Regions from separate parts of the Homo sapiens genome. Here region 1 is linked to region 2. A link means that fine-mapping ties the variant in region 2 to the expression of a gene that starts in the linked region. Tissue or cell type: whole blood. Region 2 holds a variant in brackets; the other region holds the start of a gene. All regions are shown on one strand. Distances are from middle to middle.

Region 1 (8,000 bases), 89 kb before region 2:
TAATCCTAAAGGCTCAGCTCTATAATCACATTTGGTTAGCTTGAGACTAATCCTTAGAGGTTATTTATTTTTCATGAAGATTGCTTCCCAGCTACTGGTTTATTTAGACTTTACTAATAATTATTTCGCAAGAGCTTTTTTCACCACTGCTCATTTATATGTGTAGAATTCACACTGTGAATATGAACTAAGGATGAATTTTTTTAAGAGTTAAGGTTTAACTGGAATGTCATTTTTTCTTTACTGTGCCAGATCATTCCTTTTCTGGGAAGCTGTCCCGTGAAATAATTAAATATTGTCCCTTTAAAAGAGTCTGTGACCTGCTGCATTTGTAATCCTTGAATTCCATGATTCAGCCCAAGATCTCCCAGCTTTCCATTTCACACTCCTGCTCACATTTGGTTTAGATTTGGCTTTTCTTTGCTCGAGAGGAACAGGATTTATTACTACCAGTCAGAAGCCATCAGTCCCCAATATTTCAGCAAAGAACCCTAGTCTGCCAGAGTGAGTAATGCTCTGTTTGCACTCAAGTCTCCCTGAACCAGTCACCCCAAATAGGATGTCACTGCTTGCATTTATTTAGAAACTGTCAAGTTGTCTATGTGTTTCCTCCCACCAGTTCATGTGATTCCTGAAACACCCCTATGCGCTTTGATGGGAGGGAAAAAAAATAACAGTCCCTCATACATTTATGTAATGCTTATTTATGGAGCACAGTGTATATGTTAGGGACTGAGAGCTGAGTATGTGCTGGCACCCCAGAAGGACATGTCCCTGTTCTCAGGTAGCTTAGAGGTCATTGAGTCCCACCATGAGGCAGGCACACCAGGAAATGGTCTTGATGTCTTCTTTCACTGACTACTCATAATAAACTATGGGAAAGGTCTGATTACCCTTGTTTTGTGGCTGGGATTACCGAAACTCCCAGAGGTTAAGTCATCCTCTGATAAGGGGGAAAGCCAATGCTCAGACCTGGACTTTCTCGGTCCAAGGCTGCTGATTGAATTCTGGATTCTTCCCAAATAGTGTAATCTCGTGTCAACTCAAATCAATTCAAGTTTCCTTTCCAGTTTCCCACATCCCATGGTTTGGCTTAGAAAGAAAGATGGTGCAACACACAACAGATATCAAGCATCTAAGAGTTTGGGAAGGGTTTGTGTGACCAGTGGTGTGGGCAGGGTGTCTTTAGAATGGAAAGTGGATGAGAGGGGAGCTCAAAGAGGTGATCCAGGAATTCCCAAAGGTGGACCTTGACTCAGTAAGTCACCAGGTCTGTTATTTGAAATGAGTCATTTGTGGTATGGGGGCAAATGACCTCAGTCCCTCACCAAACTATCGGGAAGCAAGCAAACAAAATAATCCCCGCTTCTGGGGAGAATAATCCTAATTACAGCCCCTAGAATTTGCATGCCCTTCTACAGTTTGCAAAGCACTTTCACACCTATATTTTCCTTGGTGGAATTGTTTACTGCACTAATGGAGAAGGGACCAGGACTTGATATGGCCTAGTTTGTTGGTTTTTATATATTTTTTAAGAATAATCATCTGTCAAAATGTAATTTCATGCAATAGTCTGGTATATAAAACTGATGCAAGTGGAACTTCTGTGGTTGGGATGGGGCCTGGGGAGGGAGAGGCACAGCTTACTCCTCAGCTTTTACTCTGACCACTAGGTCTGCTTCTGAGGGGTCTCTAAGGAACCTCCAGGTTCCATGAAACACAGTAAGACAGACATTGTTCCTAGTGACTCCCCACGTCACTTCACTTTCTTGCTCCAAGAAAAGGAAGCTGAAATCCCTGGAGGTTGCATGAGGTGAAAAAAGCTGCTCCTTGTCCTGTATTCTTGTGCATGGAACCTACCAGGGCTGGTTTCCTCACATGAGTAGGGACTGAAGCCTTATCTGGGAGCCAGTTTGCCCCCAGTTGTTTCAAGAAATAAAGTGTCCTCTTGGTCACAGACAGCAGCAGTAACAACTTTTTCCTGCGGACTGGCAGCATTTTCCAAGCACCTGCTCTTCAGGTGGGAGTTACGGGTCACTGTCTTCATTCCAGACGGGCGGCTCTTTGAGTCATGGCATGCCAGCTTCTGAGTGGCTGAGGACTAGATCCAGACAAGGATTTTTCAGTCCCAAACACTCTTCCTGAAAATGCAAGAGGAGTAGTCTTTAGTCAAACAGAATCTCCACAACTGAAAAATTTATACCGGACTAGACAGTGGTAGTGGTTGCACAATATTGTTAAAGTACTACACGTCACTGCTATAAACACTTTTAAATGGGTGAAATGGTAAATTTTATGTTATGCATATTTTAACATAACAATGATAATAATTTTAACTAAGTACGTTGCCTCCTTATTTCCTACAGGGTCAAGTTCAAACTCCCTGGCATAGCTTACACCTTGTAGTCCCCATACCTGTAACCTCATGTCTGCTATCTTCCCCCAGCCCCTTCATCTGATCTATGTTCAGATCAGCTCACATTGCTCTCTATTCTCTGGACAAGCCATGTTCTTTCACTTTTCTATGCTCAAACACAATTTTGCTTTTAGTAATGATAGCAAACACTTATTTAAAGTGCTTACTGCATGCATATGTAGACATAAATCTACGGCTTAATACATGCAGGGCTTTTGAGTCATTTAATCCTCACCAATTCTATGAAGTAATAGAATTGTAATAGTAATAATAGATACTATTATTAAGCCCATTTTATACTTGAGCAAATTGAGCTAATTGCCTTAGGCAAGGTCACACAACTAAGAAGCAGCCATAATAGGGTTTGGATCTAGGTGTTCTAGCTCCTGAATCCATGCTGTTCGTCACTACACTGTACTGCCTGTGGATGACTTACTTGTCCCTGTAGTTTCATCTGAAGAATTCCTCCTCCTTTTCCTTTGAGGCCTGCCTCAAATATCACTTCCCCTGTGAAGACTGCCTGGTGTTCTCCAGGAGAGAGTGTGACTCCCTTCTCTAGGAATGGTAGCACCCCAAACACACACATTTTGCAGCATATTTCACCTTGCATGGTAATGGCCTGCTTGTGAGTTTTATTCCGTACCAGAGGGTGAGGGCTCTGAAGATAGCGCCAGGTCTTATTTACCTCGATACCCCACAACACTCATTACATGTCTGATGAATGAATGCATAGGGGGATGGCTGGGTGCATTTCTCTCAACTTTTCAATTTCTTGAAATAAATAACAAAATCTTACCTTCCCTCAGAAGTCCTGGCATGGTTCCTTTCATCTTGCCACAGCCACTGATAATCACTTTCATTTTCTGTGTAACTCACCAGGCAAGAAGTCCATGCAGATTTACTTTTAGTAGTTCACATGACAAATAAATACTGCGTTTGATTTCCAAACATTAAACCATAGTATATTATAGATAGATATAGAGTTATCATTCAAAGTATGATATTTCAATCTCAAAAGGCTTCCCCTGAAGAATATTACAAACTCTTCCTCTCTTTAAGATCTGCTGGGTAGGAAAGATGGGAGAAAATGAATTAATGTTTACACAGAAAGGAGGATAATGGGGGCAAAAATAATAGATGAACGTATGGGTGGATGAGAGAATGGATAAAATGATAGGTGGATATGTTGATCTTGGACAGATGGGAAATGAGTGGATATATCAATAAACAGATATGTGGGTGGATGGGTGGAGAAGAGGATGGTGGATGGTTGTGGTTTTATGAAGAGATGTGAAAAAGGAAGTGTGGAATGATGGATGAGAAGTTGTATGGGAAGATGAATAGAAGAATAGGTGGTTGAATAAATTAAAAGGTGTGTGGTTGGATGAATGAATGAGTGGGATGATAGATGGACCTAAGTGGTTAGTGGATGGACAGGAGGATGGATGGATGTGAGAGCCCCAGAAGGACATAAGGAAAGATGGGTGGATAGATGGATGGGCGGATGGAAGGATATTTAGGAGGATGAATGAGCATGTGTGTGGAGAGAGGTGCCCATTCACACTGGCTTGAACACATGGGTTAGCTGAGCCAAATGCCAGCCCTATGACAGGCCATCAGTAGCTTTCCCTGAGCTGTTCTGCCAAGAAGCTAAAATTCATTCAAGCCATGTGGACTTGTTATTGAGGGGAAAAAGAATGAGCTCTCCCTCTTTCCACTTGGAAGATTCACCAACTCCCCACCCCTCACTCCCCACTGTGGGCACGGAGGCACTGCGCCACCCAGGGCAAGACCTCGCCCTCTCTCCAGCTCCTCTCCCAGGATATCCAACATCCTGTGAAACCCAGAGATCTTGCTCCAGCCGGATTCAGAGAAATTTAGCGGGAAAGGAGAGGCCAAAGGCTGAACCCAATGGTGCAAGGTTTTACGGTTCGGTCATCCTCTGTCCTGACGCCGCGGGGCCAGCGGGAGAAGAAAGCCAGTGCGTCTCTGGGCGCAGGGGCCAGTGGGGCTCGGAGGCACAGGCACCCCGCGACACTCCAGGTTCCCCGACCCACGTCCCTGGCAGCCCCGATTATTTACAGCCTCAGCAGAGCACGGGGCGGGGGCAGAGGGGCCCGCCCGGGAGGGCTGCTACTTCTTAAAACCTCTGCGGGCTGCTTAGTCACAGCCCCCCTTGCTTGGGTGTGTCCTTCGCTCGCTCCCTCCCTCCGTCTTAGGTCACTGTTTTCAACCTCGAATAAAAACTGCAGCCAACTTCCGAGGCAGCCTCATTGCCCAGCGGACCCCAGCCTCTGCCAGGTTCGGTCCGCCATCCTCGTCCCGTCCTCCGCCGGCCCCTGCCCCGCGCCCAGGGATCCTCCAGCTCCTTTCGCCCGCGCCCTCCGTTCGCTCCGGACACCATGGACAAGTTTTGGTGGCACGCAGCCTGGGGACTCTGCCTCGTGCCGCTGAGCCTGGCGCAGATCGGTGAGTGCCCGCCGCAGCCTGGGCAGCAAGATGGGTGCGGGGTGCTCAGCGCGGACCCGGCGGCAGCCCCTCCGGCTGAGTCGGCCCTGGGGGACTGGAGTCAAGTGAGCTGTCTGCGAAGTGCATTGGGCTCCGGAAAGCAGGGCTGGGATTTGCGCTAAACCGTTGGAGAATGTGTCTGTGGAAGCACCATTTGGTTGAAAGAAAAAGAGAAAGAGAAGAAAGTTTGTTGGGCAGGCTGCCGGCGCGCAGTTTTGGGCGAGGTCGCTAGAGCTGCAGCACATGGCAGAAAGTAACCGTTCTCCCGGATGCGCACAGTCGTTGTCTGGACTAACAGGCTCCTGTGCCCAAGGGCTCGCCAAGCCCCACCGGGCTGTGTCTAGGCAGGGCAGAGCTGGGCGGGGCAGAGACTGGGGCTGGAACAGGGCGAGTGGCTGTTATCAAGGTGGTCACAGAAGGGATCACAATTCCAAGTGTGAGACTAGCTGGCAATGGGTTTTCCAGAAAGGGGTCCTGGGTTCTCCCAGCTCCCCACTGAGCCTTGTTCCAAAGCTTACAGTCCGCAGTGTCACTGCCACCTTAGCGCTGTGGAAGCTTGAACCAGCTCTGCGGTGAGGTCTTGGGTCTCCATGAGATTCCAGCCTGGGATAGGGAGCATGAATATGAGAGGCAACCACTGGACCAGCTGCTTGGTCCTCACCACCTCCTGCTTCTGCCAATCAGTGTGGGGAAATCTCAACAGTAAGGTGGCTTATATTCCCTGCCTGGCAGCCTCAGAGCAGAGAGAAGAGCCTTGATACCAGGGCAACATCAGGGACCCTGGAGCTAGGGCTCCAATATCTCATCCAAACAGGGTCAGTGCTTTGTGGTGGCTATGGAGGGGAGGGGCTGCGTGTAAGGTATATTCTAGCACGGCTCAACTCCAAGCATTCTCTTTCTTTGTCTATGTATGTACAGATAATTACATGGCCGATTTGCTTATCGCTGGCCAAAATTAATCTTTCTTTTAAGAAGTGCCAGCTGGGTCATTAAGACAGCTCAGCCTGCATGCAGTAAATTCTACTCAGCAAATATTTATTAACCCAGTTCCACGGGAGTACTGAGAAATTGAAACACACAGTCTCACCCAGGTAGTTTAGATTGAGTACCCAGTATAAAGTATCTTGAATTACTTTCTGCTTTCTCTATCTTCCTACTTTCTGCAGTAGGAAGAAAGTGACCCTAGGTGGAGGCTAGGCAGGATGAGTTCTCTGTGCATATGCATCTCCCTTTCTGTGTGAGTGAGAGGTCTTTGCTAGGTGGGGATTTGGGGATCTAGGATTTATACTACTGAAGCTGAAATAATAATAATAATGATAGCAACAACACAGCCTGTCATGGTGGCCCATGCCTGTAATCCTAGGACTTTGGGAGGCTGAGGCAGCAAATTACCCAAGGTCAGGAGTTTGAGACCAGCCTTGGCCAACATGGTGAAACCCCATCTTTACAAAAAATACAAAAATTAGCAGGGTGTGGTGGTGCACACCTGTAGTCCCAGCTGCTTGGGACGCTGAGGCAGGAGAATTGCTTGAACCTAGGAGGTGAAGGTTGCAGTGAACCAAGATTATGCCATTGCACTCCAGCCTGGGTGACAAAGCGTGACTCTGTTAAAAAAAAAAAAATGAATACAGTGCTAGCTACCATTTACTGTATATTTTCACTGTGCCAGGCATTATGTTAAATATTTTCCATGTGTTATCTCATTCTACCCTCACAATGGCCTAGTAAGAAGCTTCCTGTTATCAGGCCTGTTTGACAGGAGGAAAACTGATGCTTAGAGACGTTAAGTGACTTGCTGGCATTCACATAGCCAGGAGCAGTGCTGGATGGAAACCCAGCTCCACTGAGCTCCAAAGCCTAGGCTTAGAATATGTTAGACTGTATAAGATGGACGAACTTGGAAGGATTTCAGGGAGGGAAGGATTTTGGTGGACTCTAGGCCTTAGGGAAAGTTCCAAAAGGGACTGGAGCTCAAATAAGCCCTTGAAAAGTGGAAACATTCAGGATGGGAGAGAAGAGTCAAGCTGGAGATCAGGGAGAGCCCTGGGCCTGGCCTGAAAGAAGAGGGCCCTGGTGGTTTCCCTATAGTCTCTAGGGAAGTTTATTTGTATGTTACCTACCAGTGCCATCTTCTGCTTTGTCTTTGGGCATTCTGACTCCTGACTCCTTCCAACCTGTCTCCCCGTTCCTTCTAAAAGGCCCCACTTCCAAATATTTGGCACTGTCCTAACCCTTGAGGTTCTCCCAGAGACCCGCAGTCTCCCTCCTGCCCCGTGTTTCCACGGCCCCTTTGCGCAGCATCATTTAGAGGAAGTACAATGAAGTGCCAGTAGCAATAACTGCCCCGGCCCTCGCTTTCATGTGCTTGTAAAGTTGTTTGGCAGGAACTGGGACTTGGAAAGGAGACATGACTTTGTCAGAGGGCTTGGGGCTGGGCATGGTGTGGGTGGCGAAGGGGAGAAGGAGGAAAGGGGAAGGAAAGGAGCTCTTGTTGCCCCATTCTGGGGAGTGGTGGACTCTGGACAACCACGAGGAAACTTTGGAAAGGAGCAAGGCTTTGAGGAGGAGTCCAGTCTTTGTATGGGAAAGCAAAAAGTGGAGAAATGGCCAAATGTAGTTAAGTGACATTGGACCCAGAAACTCTGAGTTGGGGAACAGATATCTTGAATTCGGGGTCTTGTGCAGGAGGAAGAAAGTGGCCCTTGGTGGAGGCCAGGGGGGATGAGTCCTTCATGCACATGCATCTCCTTGTCTCTGTGGGTGAGGGGATCTTTTTTTTTAATTATTATTATACTTTAAGTTTTAGGGTTCAACCATTGTGGAAGTCAGTGTGGCGATTCCTCAGGGATCTAGAACTAGAAATACCATTTGACCCAGCCATCCCATTACTGGGTATATACCCAAAGGACTACAAATCATGCTGCTATAAAGACACATGCACATGTATGTTTATTGTGGCATTATTCACAATAGCAAAGACTTGGAACCAACCCAAATGTCCAACAATGATAGACTGGGTGAGGGGATCTTTGCTTGGGAATTGCATGCCTGGTGTTGAGAAAGAGGAGAGCGTCTG
Region 2 (8,263 bases):
CTGAGAGAAAAAATCTAAAAGGCCGCCTATGATTGAATGGAAAGATTTTTTTTAGTTGAATTTAAATAATGTGACTTGGGGGAGCCTTTACAAAGAGTCTTTATACCTCCCTTCAGCTTCCTCATTTTCCCTTGGATTACTTTTGCTCAATTAAATATGAATTTCCTATTGTGTGCAATCAGCCCTTTATTGCCAAGCCCTAGAATGCACCACTTTTGCTCACATACACAGTCCATAAGCTTTGCACATGTCACCATAGAAACGCTGGCATGGATGCTGTCGACATTTAGGGAGACCTCGGAGAAGCATCTCAGCTGTCCCTAAGAGCAGCTGGAGTCCATACATTGGGGCTGGGTATCTCCCCCATCGTCTGTGTCTTGTCAGCAGCAGACAGCAGAGAAGGGGCCTCATTGCTGCCCTCTCCCTCCTCCCAAGACCAGCAGTCACCCTGGCAACCGGCAAACAGGGACACACAGGGTCCGGCACAGCGAGTATCTCACCAGGAAAGTAGCTGCTTGGATGCCATAAATTACTATGTCCTGATTTGATAATTGAAAACAGATTTGCCACGCAGCTAAAAGGTGGTGAACAGCTGTACGGGCCCCTTAATGGGCTCTGTGATTCTAAAGCTGTCAACCCATTTCTAATCCCCTTCAAAGGCTGAGGCTTTTCTGCTTTGAGTGTCACATTTAAGAGAAAGAGATACAGAATCCTATTTTCATCAGAGAAAGTTTGGTTGAAAATGGGGCCTCCAATAGGTGTTCATTTATTCAGCAAACATCTTTTGAGTGGCTCCTGTGACTACCAGCCCTGGCAAGGAGAAAGAGAAGGTAAAAAACAAAAAGAGTACCACCCCTTTTCTAAAAGAATCTTGAGGTTTAGTGGCAGTATTGGCCTCTTGAATTTGAATTGGCTAATATTTATTGAGAACATTCCCTGTGCCAGACACTGTTATATAAATTATGGTTAAAAGACAAAAGTGGAAAATCATTAGTCTCTGAAGTTGACATACAAGGATGGGTCATGGGCTTGCATGATGAAGTGATCTGTGAGTCACGTTGTCTTAAAGATGCTGGGTTGGGGGTTCTATTACTTCTTTAGGTTTTTCCACCCCTGCCATCATCCAAAACAGCTTTCTTTGCTGTTCCTCATGTCACCTGACTCCTTGAGTTACAGCTCTCCAAGAGAAATCATATTTTATTCCCTTTTCATGAGAGCACATAATTATTTTAGGAGTCAGTTGGGTTGATAGATACTGCGTGAGGCTCCAGAGAAGATTTTCCTTTAAAGAATCTATCTGGGCCAGGTGCAGTGGCTCACTCCATGTGCAGTGGCTCACTTTGGGAGGCCGAGGCAGTGGATTAGTTGAGCCTAGGAGTTCAAGACCAGCCTGGGCAACATGGCGAAACCCCATCTCTACAAAAAACACAAAAATTAGCCGGGCATAGTGGCGCATGCCTGTGGTCTCAGCTGCTCGGGAGGTTGAGGTAGAAGAATCGCTTGAGCCCCGGGAGGTGGAGGCAGCAGTGAGCCATGATAGTGCCACTACAGCCTGGGCAACAGAGTGAGACCCTGTCTCAAACAAACAAGCAAACAAACAAACAAACAAAAACCTATCTTATTTGTCTAAAGAGGAGAAAAAAACATGAGAACTTTACTATGTTGCTTGTACATAAAAGCTGTTCATCAGCCTTCACTTTAATGGGAATAATCGTCTTTTCTATAAACCCCAGCAGGCAGTCACCCACACTCCAATCAGTAGGTCTTCTCTACGCATCGCCATAATTTAGAAATATTTTCCTTCTCTTATGCTACAGTCTAGCTCCTGCAATCTGAGCTCACCCAACCTCGTCCTGCTGTCTAGAACAGTGCTATGCAATAGAACTTTCTGTGATGATGGAAATATTCTATACCTCCACTGTCCAATATATAACTACTAGCCACAACTGAGCACTTGAACTATGGCTAGTTCAACTGAGGAAGTGAATTTTTAATTTCATTTCATTGTAATTAGTTTAAATTCAAATAGCCAAATGTGGCTGGTGGCTACCATATTGGATGGCACAGCTCTAAAACAGTGCAAAATAAATCCCTAAATATCGTTAAGGATTGTCAGGTAGAAGAGTCATGAGATCAGTTGCCAAGTTACCCACCTAAATCTTTTAAGATAAATTCTGCCATGCCATAAAAGTATGTTACCTGGCTTCTAAACCCCAGCCAGCCTGCCCTCTCTTTCCTGGTGAGGTCTCAGTCTGCCTCCTTCCACACTGTGTGATTGCTGTGTGCTCAGCTAATGCCTGAGATTTAAGGGAAGAGGAGATAAAGGTAAGACACAGATCCATGAGGATCTCTGATCTTCAGAGTCAGAAGATCCAAGCTGTGGCTGGGCGCGGGGGCTCACACCTGTAATCCCAGCACTTTGGGAGGCTGAGGCAGGCAGATCATTTGAGGTCAGGAGTTTGAGACCAGCGTGGCCAACATGGAGAAACCCTACCTCTACTAAAAACACAAAAATTAGCCAGGTGTGGTGGCGGGTGCCTGTAATCCCAGCTACTTGGGTGGCTGAGGCAGGAGAATTTCTTGAACCCAGGAGGCAGAGGTTGCAGTGAGCCGAGATAGTGCCATTGCACCCCAGCCTGGTTGATGAAGTGAGACTTTGTAAAAAACAAAACAAAACAAACAAACAAACAAACAAACAAAAACAGAAAATCCAAGCTGTGATTCTTGCAGTGCAGTGCCATAACAAGCTGTGAAACTTTGGACAATACTTCTTGGACTTGGTGTCCAGTTTACATAATGAAGAAGCTGGGCTAGATGATCTCTGAAGCCCCTTAAGGTCTAGTGCTCCTTCTTAAATTCTTATAACTAGGAATAACTTAAAAATTAGAATTTGTCTCTTAAAAGCACTTATTAGACGCCTAGAGCACTGAATATTGGAATGAGTTATTTATGAGAATCATCCTACCCTCCTGAAACTACTCAGACAGATAGAAACACATAAATCCAAAGGGAAATGCAGGCCAACCAAAAACCAAGCACAATATTCCTGTGTCCTATAGGTCAAATGTTATCCACTGTCAAGATCAGCTTCGTTTAGATTAACAACATTAATCCCCACCCACTCCCATGCACAGACATATTTTTTATGCTCATAAATCACTTTCCCACAATATTTCATTCCATCCCTCAACCACCCATTGGTTAGGGAAATGGGAATTACTTTAACTAGACAACTTTCCTCCAAAGAACACAGGGGCCAGGGAATTGGAAGTAACACAAGCAGTATTCTACCTTGAGCCTTTTAAATCCTCTTCATAGTAAATAATAACGAGGTAGGTGGAGGCAGCCAGGAGAAACAAGCAAAATTCATTTCATATGGCTTTTGTTATATTAACAATTATAGATAGCACTTGAAAGCTTACTGTGCTCCAGATACTGTTCTAAGTGTTAACCCAAACCTTAGTTTCCTTACCCCGCATAAGAGCAAGAATAACAATTATTTCCTTACCCCTCATAAGAGCAAGAATAATAACAATAGACTCATTTATTTAGTGACAGTCTCTGTTTCAAGGGCTTTTCACAATCCTATGATATTGCTACTCTTAGTAACCTGGTATTATTGATGCAAAACTGAGGCTCAGAGAGGTTAAGTGAGTTGCCCCAGGTCACATAGCAGTAAGTTCTCAAAACCAGGCCTTCCGAGCCCCTTTTCTTCTTTCTTTTTTCCTTTTTTTTTTTTTTTTTTTTTTGAGACGGAGTCTTACTGTGTCACCCAGGCTGGAGTGCGGTGATGCAATCTCAGCTTACTGCAACCTCCACCTCCCAGGTTCAAGCAATTCTCCTGCTTCAGTCTCCTGAGTAGTTGGGATTCAGCCACGCACCACCATGCCCCCATGACCGGCTAATTTTTGTATTTTTGGTAGAGATGGGGTTTCACCATGTTGGCCAGCTGGTCTCGAACTCCTGACCTCAAGTGATCCTTCTGCCTCAGCCTCCCAAGTGTTGGGATTACAGGCATGAGCCATTGTGCCTGGTCTCTTTTTCTTTTTTGAAACAGGGTCTCACTCTGTCACCCAGGCTGGAATGCAGTGGCACAAACACAGCTCACTGCAGCCTCGACTTCCTGGGCTCAAGTAATTCTCCCACCTCAGCCCCCAAAGTAACTAAGACTACAGGCACATGCCACCACAGCCGGCTTATCTTTGTATTTTGAATACAGACTGGGTTTTACCATGTTGCCCAGGCTGGTCACAATCTCCTGGGCTCAAGTGATCCACCCGCCTTGGCCTCCCAAAGTGCTGGGATTACAGGAGTGAACCACTGCACCTGGCCTCCAAGGCCCTTTTCTTGACCATGCATCCTGCTGGACTCCATCTGTATTCCTGGTCCCCATGAATCTGTTTCACAGTTCAAGCATCCTTCCCCCAACCCCTCATCAAGCCTTATGCTAGAGGAGACAGGATCTACCTCCTGTTGAGGAGGTATAATTTTTATTTCCCCAAACAAGAGCTTAAAGTTTATGGCCTTGGCAGTCCTACAGGGAATGGTCCATGATCATGAATAATAGAGGCTTTGTCACTATTACTCCAAATATCCAGAGGCAAAGTGAACAATTCTGACTTCATACTGTTTCCAAATCTCCAGAGGGCTGGCAGCATTGACAGAGCCAGGCAGAGCCCAGGCTTTGGTCATAAAGGCCTGGATTTGAATATTGGCTCTGTCATTCTTACTTTCTGTGTGACCTCGAGCAAGTTATTAAACCTCTTTTGGCCTCAGTTTCCATTGCTGTATTATGGGAACAATAGCTGCTTTGAAAGAGTGTTGTAAGAATTACAGAAAATTACATGTAAAATGTCTGGTATTCAGGAGGTAATCTGCTTCCCTGAATCCCCATCTTGCTTGTAGTTGTGAAGCTATGCAACTTTCCTTCCTCTAAGCATAGTCTGACTCGTATATGTGTAGTAGTGAT[A/G]TGTTACAGGAAAGAGGAAGCATTGCATTAGGCTGGGTGGGGTGAAGCAATGGACAGTAACCAGGGAAAAGATCAAGGTCGTACTCTTCCATAGCAACTTTCTTTTGCGTTTGGGTCTTAAGTAATGTTTGAGAAACCTTAAATTAACGAGAATAATTTGTCTTATGTTATTAAACTTCCTATATCAGGGTTGTATGAGTTAGCCAATGTTAGGAAAACATCACTATGGCCTTATACCTCTAGAAAAATGTTGTTTTATTCTTCTCGATACATTCAGTAATAATGCTGACAAGGCCGACAAAGTGTTGACTGGGAGAGGAAGTTATGGGACTTTCTGGAATATACAAATCAGAATGATTTACAATCATCATGTTGATGGTTTATCTAAATCTGCAGAAACTGCTAAAATGCTTAAAAGAGGCAAACATTTCCATTGTGAAGTAAGATAGAAAGAGAATCAGAACTTGAGAGTCAGACAGACCAGGGTTTGAATCCTCTTTCTTACTTGCTGAGTTACTTGGGGGAAGTTACTGAATTTTCTGATCCCCAAGGTTTCTTCACTTGGAATATAGAGAATATAATAATAACACCGGCTTCCTGGAGTCTTAGTTGCTGGTTTGCAAACTTGACTGTGCAGAGAAGCCCCTGAGGGGTTGCAAATTTGACTGTGCAGAGAAGCCACAGATCCTGGGCTCCAACTCTAGAGTTTTCTGATTCAGCAGGTTTGGGGTGGGGCTGAGAATTTGTATTTCTAACAGGTTCCAAGATGATGCTTTTGCTGCTGGTCCAGGGACCTCACTTTGAGGAGTGCTGGTTGTTATGAGTCTGGTTGTTAAGTGCTGGTTGTTAGTTGTTAAAGTAGAGAAAACCCCTAGCACAGTGCTTGGCACACACTAAAGCCATCATAAACCATAGTGATCATCAATGATGGTGCTCAGTAAGGATGATGATCTGATGCCTGAGTCACTGCAATCTTTCTGATATGGTACATTTTTTAAATTATTAGGTGTGGGCAGAAGAAAAAGCTAGTGATCAACAGTGGCAATGGAGCTGTGGAGGACAGAAAGCCAAGTGGACTCAACGGAGAGGCCAGCAAGTCTCAGGAAATGGTGCATTTGGTGAACAAGGAGTCGTCAGAAACTCCAGACCAGTTTATGACAGCTGATGAGACAAGGAACCTGCAGAATGTGGACATGAAGATTGGGGTGTAACACCTACACCATTATCTTGGAAAGAAACAACCGTTGGAAACATAACCATTACAGGGAGCTGGGACACTTAACAGATGCAATGTGCTACTGATTGTTTCATTGCGAATCTTTTTTAGCATAAAATTTTCTACTCTTTTTGTTTTTTGTGTTTTGTTCTTTAAAGTCAGGTCCAATTTGTAAAAACAGCATTGCTTTCTGAAATTAGGGCCCAATTAATAATCAGCAAGAATTTGATCGTTCCAGTTCCCACTTGGAGGCCTTTCATCCCTCGGGTGTGCTATGGATGGCTTCTAACAAAAACTACACATATGTATTCCTGATCGCCAACCTTTCCCCCACCAGCTAAGGACATTTCCCAGGGTTAATAGGGCCTGGTCCCTGGGAGGAAATTTGAATGGGTCCATTTTGCCCTTCCATAGCCTAATCCCTGGGCATTGCTTTCCACTGAGGTTGGGGGTTGGGGTGTACTAGTTACACATCTTCAACAGACCCCCTCTAGAAATTTTTCAGATGCTTCTGGGAGACACCCAAAGGGTGAAGCTATTTATCTGTAGTAAACTATTTATCTGTGTTTTTGAAATATTAAACCCTGGATCAGTCCTTTGATCAGTATAATTTTTTAAAGTTACTTTGTCAGAGGCACAAAAGGGTTTAAACTGATTCATAATAAATATCTGTACTTCTTCGATCTTCACCTTTTGTGCTGTGATTCTTCAGTTTCTAAACCAGCACTGTCTGGGTCCCTACAATGTATCAGGAAGAGCTGAGAATGGTAAGGAGACTCTTCTAAGTCTTCATCTCAGAGACCCTGAGTTCCCACTCAGACCCACTCAGCCAAATCTCATGGAAGACCAAGGAGGGCAGCACTGTTTTTGTTTTTTGTTTTTTGTTTTTTTTTTTTGACACTGTCCAAAGGTTTTCCATCCTGTCCTGGAATCAGAGTTGGAAGCTGAGGAGCTTCAGCCTCTTTTATGGTTTAATGGCCACCTGTTCTCTCCTGTGAAAGGCTTTGCAAAGTCACATTAAGTTTGCATGACCTGTTATCCCTGGGGCCCTATTTCATAGAGGCTGGCCCTATTAGTGATTTCCAAAAACAATATGGAAGTGCCTTTTGATGTCTTACAATAAGAGAAGAAGCCAATGGAAATGAAAGAGATTGGCAAAGGGGAAGGATGATGCCATGTAGATCCTGTTTGACATTTTTATGGCTGTATTTGTAAACTTAAACACACCAGTGTCTGTTCTTGATGCAGTTGCTATTTAGGATGAGTTAAGTGCCTGGGGAGTCCCTCAAAAGGTTAAAGGGATTCCCATCATTGGAATCTTATCACCAGATAGGCAAGTTTATGACCAAACAAGAGAGTACTGGCTTTATCCTCTAACCTCATATTTTCTCCCACTTGGCAAGTCCTTTGTGGCATTTATTCATCAGTCAGGGTGTCCGATTGGTCCTAGAACTTCCAAAGGCTGCTTGTCATAGAAGCCATTGCATCTATAAAGCAACGGCTCCTGTTAAATGGTATCTCCTTTCTGAGGCTCCTACTAAAAGTCATTTGTTACCTAAACTTATGTGCTTAACAGGCAATGCTTCTCAGACCACAAAGCAGAAAGAAGAAGAAAAGCTCCTGACTAAATCAGGGCTGGGCTTAGACAGAGTTGATCTGTAGAATATCTTTAAAGGAGAGATGTCAACTTTCTGCACTATTCCCAGCCTCTGCTCCTCCCTGTCTACCCTCTCCCCTCCCTCTCTCCCTCCACTTCACCCCACAATCTTGAAAAACTTCCTTTCTCTTCTGTGAACATCATTGGCCAGATCCATTTTCAGTGGTCTGGATTTCTTTTTATTTTCTTTTCAACTTGAAAGAAACTGGACATTAGGCCACTATGTGTTGTTACTGCCACTAGTGTTCAAGTGCCTCTTGTTTTCCCAGAGATTTCCTGGGTCTGCCAGAGGCCCAGACAGGCTCACTCAAGCTCTTTAACTGAAAAGCAACAAGCCACTCCAGGACAAGGTTCAAAATGGTTACAACAGCCTCTACCTGTCGCCCCAGGGAGAAAGGGGTAGTGATACAAGTCTCATAGC

Direction of the effects. Positions count from the first base shown, and alleles are read on the strand shown. Sizes are in standard deviations (SD) of each study's normalised expression.
For the expression in whole blood of the gene that starts at base 4,686 in region 1, A is the low allele of the variant in region 2 and G is the other (small effect, 0.12 SD a copy in GTEx).

The links. PIP is the estimated chance that this variant, and not a neighbour inherited with it, causes the effect.
Region 1: it holds the start of CD44, and the variant in region 2 is fine-mapped to the expression of CD44 in whole blood (GTEx, PIP above 0.99).

The regions. Positions count from the first base shown.
Region 1 is chr11:35,134,486-35,142,485 of GRCh38, forward strand. It overlaps CD44 (CD44 molecule (IN blood group)), which reads left to right and starts at 4,686. Exons shown (of 18, transcript NM_000610.4): 1 at 4,686-4,885. The coding sequence starts at 4,819. It overlaps CD44-DT (CD44 divergent transcript), which reads right to left and starts at 3,547. Exons shown (of 3, transcript NR_120528.1): 1 at 3,213-3,547; 2 at 1,861-2,141. RefSeq lists enhancers at 3,851-4,415, 5,583-6,083 and a silencer at 4,326-4,395.
Region 2 is chr11:35,223,154-35,231,416 of GRCh38, forward strand. CD44 (CD44 molecule (IN blood group)) reads left to right here. Exons shown (of 18, transcript NM_000610.4): 18 at 5,976-8,263. The coding sequence ends at 6,180. Among named protein-coding and RNA genes, the nearest start is that of CD44-AS1, 12 kb to the left of the region's middle. The variant A/G (reference allele first, on the strand shown) is at 4,970.